Regions from separate parts of the Homo sapiens genome. Here region 2 is linked to region 1. The links come from fine-mapping of genetic effects on gene expression. A gene starts in region 1. The other region holds a variant in brackets. All regions are shown on one strand. Distances are between the middles of the regions. Region 1 holds the start of FARP2 (FERM, ARH/RhoGEF and pleckstrin domain protein 2). Region 2 overlaps FARP2 (FERM, ARH/RhoGEF and pleckstrin domain protein 2).

Evidence for each region.
Region 2: its variant is fine-mapped to the expression of FARP2 in non-classical monocytes (Schmiedel 2018, PIP 0.95).

The regions. Positions count from the first base shown.
Region 1 is chr2:241,355,239-241,357,997 of GRCh38, forward strand. FARP2 (FERM, ARH/RhoGEF and pleckstrin domain protein 2) reads left to right here and starts at 1,047. Exons shown (of 27, transcript NM_014808.4): 1 at 1,047-1,150. RefSeq lists a silencer at 835-1,384.
Region 2 is chr2:241,407,081-241,409,839 of GRCh38, forward strand. FARP2 (FERM, ARH/RhoGEF and pleckstrin domain protein 2) reads left to right here. Exons shown (of 27, transcript NM_014808.4): 5 at 457-535. Among named protein-coding and RNA genes, the nearest start is that of FARP2, 52 kb to the left of the region's middle. The variant CA/C (reference allele first, on the strand shown) is at 1,461.

The DNA of each region.
Region 1 (2,759 bases):
GGGGTCCCTAGGCCAGAGGAAGGCCGTCCTGGCCGCCACCACGGAGCAGCCTGTCTCAGCCTTAGCACAGCCTCGCGCGATCCTTCGATGATCCCCTTCGGTCCCTGTAGTCCCACGAGGGATGCAATGCGTTGGAGGAAGGAGGAGGCTGGCAGCCAGGGACTGAGCCAAAGGGTGCAAGGACAGCCGGCAAGGCCCGGGCCAAGACCTATCCCCGCCCAGCGAGCCAGGCCTCGCCCAGCACCTATCCGCGCCCAGCAAGCCTAGGCCTCGCCCAGCACCTATCCGCGCCCAGCAAGCCTAGGCCTCGCCCAGCACCTATCCGCGCCCAGCGAGCCTAGACCTCGCCCAAGACCTAGCCCCGCCCAGCGAGCCGACTCCCCGCCCAGGACCTAGCCCCGCCCAGCGAGCCGACTCCCCGCCCAGGACCTAGCCCCGCCCAGCGAGCCGACTCCCCGCCCAGGACCTAGCCCCGCCCAGCGAGCCGACTCCCCGCCCAGGACCTAGCCCCGCCCAGCGAGCCGACTCCCCGCCCAGGACCTAGCCCCGCCCAGCGAGCCGACTCCCCGCCCAGGACCTAGCCCCGCCCAGCGAGCCGACTCCCCGCCCAGGACCTAGCCCCGCCCAGCGAGCCGACTCCCCGCCCAGGACCTAGCCCCGCCCAGCGAGCCGACTCCCCGCCCAGGACCTAGCCCCGCCCAGCGAGCCGACTCCCCGCCCAGGACCTAGCCCCACCCAACGAGCCGACTCCCCGCCCAAGATCTAGCCCCGCCCAGCGAGCCTTGGCTTCGCCTAGGACATTGCCTCGCTCAGCAAGCCGACGCCCCGCCCAACGAGCCGAGCGCTGCACAGATTTATATCCTACGCAGCTGCCTGCCTGCTCCCGCCCCTTCTCCGTCCGTTCACCAATCAGAACTCGATCTTGCGCTTTCAGGCCGCGGGACGGGAAGGCTCCGCCCTGGCGCCCCGCAGGCCAATCGACTGCGCGTCCGCGTCGCGGGGGCGGGGTCAGGGCGGGGCGCGCTGCGCGGGGGCTGCCGGCGGGCAGTTGGGAGCAGGCGACGCCGACGCGAGTCTGGCGGCTGCTGCTTGCGACTGCGGAGGCCGGGCGAGGCCGGTGAGGACGCGGCGGGCGAGCGAGAGGCCGAGGGTGAGGACGTGAAGCGGCCTGGGCGCGTGGGGCAGGGGTGGGCCTCTCCGGGTGGGCGGCGAAGCCCGAGGCCCGAGGCGAGAGGCCCAGGCGGGGGGGGCGCTGAGGCCGCGGTCCACCAGAGATGGTCCCGCCCGGCCTCTGAAGGCCATCGTGAGGCGGCTGGAGCTCCTAGGCGGGTCCGGGTTAGAGGAGCGTCCGTCTGTAGGGAGCCTGCCGCGTGGGGGCAGGCGGGGCGGTGGGCCGGGGAGTGGCCCGCGTGGACTCCCGGGTTGAGGGGTGCCGCGTGGAGGAGGCCGGTGGGGCTGTAGACCGGGGAGTGTCCCGCGTGGACTCGCGGGTTGAGTTGTGCCCCGTGGAGGCCGGCAGGGCCGTGGGCCGGGGAGTGTCCCATCCCGGAAGGACACCCCAGAGTGGGCCATAGGGACCCGCAGGGTATGGGCCTGGAGGTGCCTGGTGGAGGCATTTTGAGCCGTTTGCCTTTTTAGCATTTCTTTAAATTGTATCTTAAAGGTGGGAATCAAGTGTTAGGTGTTAATATTTTTACTCCACTAAGGGCTAGAAATACTCATAAGCCAGTGGGTAGCCTTTGGGAAACCCATGAAAACTGGGGACCAGAATATGGCCCAGTACATTACACACCCGAATTACGGGCACCTTTTCCGTTTACGCTATGGCAGCAACCCCTGGCCTATCATGTGCCATTAATGGATGTGAAAAGCAGAAATTAGAACAAGGCATCATTGAAGGAAAGATTGTCAATACATAGTGTTAAAAAGGGATGGGCAAATTTAAAACCCAAGGCCAAATCTTTAAAGGGTGGTTTTTCTCTCTGGGTTTTTGTTTTTGTTTTGTTTCCGTGGGATATTTTTGTCTGGGCCACTGTGTAAATGTTTGATAACCCTGAGGTGGCAGTGGGTTAGCGTGTTGGTCTTGTGTAGACTGCCTTATAACAGGCGACACAGATTTTCTCAGTACCAGAGAGATGGGAGAGGACATTTGAGGTAGGGAAGCATGGAGTAACCTTTACTTGTAGGCCAAATATAATTTAAATTTTCTACATCTGCTTGTTGAAAGTTTTGTTTTGTTTTGTTTTTTGAGGTCCTTAAAGGTTTAGGAAGCACTTCATGCTCGTTATTTATTCAGTTTTCCAAAACTCTTCAGAGACATGACCAAGTTGCACAGCCCCGTTTTAAAGTAGAGGAAAGGGAGGTTGAGAGAGGTGGAATGACCAGTTTAGGGTCACACCTAGGGTACTTGCAAATACCATCTGTACTTCTCATGTGCCCTATCCTTGTTGCAGATTCTCATTAGGTGGTTCACTGTTAACAAACTAAATGCTGATGATGCAGTTTCCTGGACTGCAGACGTTTGCTGGCTTATTTACCTATAGGACTATCAGTCGTTAGTAAATTTCCAGGTTCCTTGTATACTAATTCCTTTCCCAAAGAGGAAGTTGATATAAGGTGTATTCATTTCTCTCTGCCTCAGGTTCCTTATTCAAAAAATGAGTTTAAAATTTACTTGGCCAGGCACAGTGGCTGTAATCCCAGCACTTTGGGAGGCCGAGGCAGGCAGATTGCATGAGCTCAGGGGTTCCAGACCAGCC
Region 2 (2,759 bases), 52 kb after region 1:
TACAGGCGTGAGCCACCGCGCCCAGCCCTACTTGTTTTTAAGGCTTCCTTGAGTAATCCCTGCTGAATGCAAAAGATTTTAAAATTCTATATATATATGTGATTGGTACTTGGGACTCATAAATTCATATACAGGAAATGCTTCTTTGTTTTTTCTTTTGTTCGGAGACAGGGTCTCACCCTGCTGCCCAGGCTGGAGTGCAGTGGTGCAGTTGTAGCACACTGCAACCTCAGACTGCTGGCCTCAAGCCATCCTTTCACCTCAGCCTCCCAAAGGGGTGGGATTACAGGCACACACCACCACACCTGGGCAGAAATTTCTTAATATCATATTATTTGAAAAGATTTGCTGTAACAGTCCACTTGGAAGCATGACCTCAGTTATACAGTAATATATGAAAAGAGAATAAATGCAAAGATCGGCCTTATTTGTGAAGTTTAAATTTTTTTGTTATAGGGCCAAAGAATGTGGTGCTTCGCCTAGCTGTAAAATTTTTTCCACCTGATCCTGGTCAGCTACAAGAAGAATATACAAGGTAAAGAGCTCACAGAGCTGAAGCTGTTGTCAGCAGGAATCTTGTATTCACCTGTTATCTCCCACAGCACCTGGCTCATTGAAAGAATGAATAAGCCTGATATACACAGAAAAGTGACCATGAGTGTAGAGTGGTTAACAGAAGCATGTTGGCAGTTGACCCTTGCACAAACACATGTGAATAAGACTTCAGTGTAAGGTTTACAGTACAAATTTGAAAATAAAAAATGGAATGGGATGTTAGGGTCATGTTGAACTTACATTTTCCAAATGAACATAGATTTATGCATGTTCATAAGGTTCTCAGGGATTTTGCTCATATATACTTATTTATCAATAAAATATACTTAATTGGTAGAAGTACCCAGTGTGTTAGTTCTTATGGATTTATGGAGCAGAAATACTTTGGGTCACTTCTTTTGTGCTACTATTTTGAATTAAAGATCAATTCTTTATAGGAATGATCTAAAGATGGCAGGGTGCAATGGCTCACGCCTGTAATCCCAGCATTTTGGGAGGCCAAGGCGGGCAGATCACGAGGTCAGGAGATCGAGACCATCCTGGCTAACACAGTTTTGAAACCCCGTCTCCACTAAAAATACAAAAAATAAGCCGGGCATGGTGGCGGGCACCTGTAGTCCCAGCTACTCAGGAGGCTGAGGCAGGAGAGTGGCATGAACCCGAGAGGCGGAGTTTGCAGTGAGTCAAGATCACATCACTGCACTCTAGCCTGGGTGACAGAGCGAGACTCCGTCTCAAAAAAAAAAAAGAAAAGAAAATTATCCAGGCGTGGTGGCAGGCATCTTTAATCCCAGCTAATTGGGAGGCTGAGGCAGGAGAATCTGTTGAATCCAGGAGGCAGAGGTTGCAGTGAGCCGAGATTGGCATTTCAGTCCAGCCTGGGCAACAAGAGCGAAACTCTGTCT[CA/C]AAAAAAAAAAAAAAGAAAATATTAACAATTGTTTCATCTGGACAGTAAGGTTATGGAAGGTTTTTCTTTGTATTTTTTGTATTTGTTCACATATCAATTATATTATGAAGAATAGAGGAATAACCTAAAAAGCAACTGAAAACCCAAAATTAGATATAAAAGAGAACTATGATGTTGTAGTGGTATCAATAACTTTTTTGCCTTCTGGCTAAAAGTGTACTCATAAATGAATCAGATGTCTTATGAACTCTCTTTTAAAGGTTTCTGCATATCATTTTAGCAACACAAAATCGTAGAATGTCAGCTGCAAGGAAATGGAGAGACCACATTAGTTCACCCTCTTATTTTTAAAGGTTTAGGAAACTCCAAAGATGGCAAAAAGTATTTTTATGAGTGACCATAGATCTTAATAGTGTATTAAATGCCTGACATTTACCAAAAAAAAAGTCTCTTTTGAGGGAATCACTTTTAAATAGAGATAGATAGATAGATAGATGATAGATAGATAGATAGATAGATAGATAGATAGATAGATACCTGAAAATGATGGATAACAAAGTGTCCCCTCATTCAGGATCCTGGGTCTCAAGTTCTAGGACTCATGCTGATAACTCAGTATTATAGTTACTCCCTTCTCCCCCATATTTATGTGGAGGATTCTTTTTTCTGTTTATAAAAATGTACATGTTTGTGGTAAAAGAATTTTTTTTCCAAATAAAGCTAAGGGCCAGGTGCAACGGCTCACACCTGTAATTCCAGCACTTCAGGACGCCAAGGTGGGGGGATCAGTTGAGCTCAGGAGTTCAAGACCAGCCTAGGCAACATGGGGAGACCTCATCTCTACAAAATATCAAAAAATTAGCCAGGCATGGTGGCATGCACCTGTAGTCCAGCTACTCTGGAGGCTGAGGCAGGAGTATCACTTGAGCCCAGGAGGTTGAGGCTGCAGTGAGCTGTGGTAGCGCCACTGCACTCCAGCCTGGGCAATAGAGTGAGAGCCTGTCTCAAAAAAAATAAGTAAACAAAGATAAGTAAAAAGTAAAAGTTCTCCATTTACTCAGCACCTTATTCTCCGCATAAGTACGTATCTTTCAGATGAAAGCATAGATGTGCAATAAACACATAGATATCAGAACTTTAAAGAAATTACAAATGTTATAAAACAATATCAAATGATACGTATTGAACTGTAGGTTGATTTTTCCCCCCACTTATTAAGCATGCTGTGGACATTTTTCCATATCGTATATAAAAATATACTAAATTAGGCTGTAACATAATTTCATCATTCTCATAT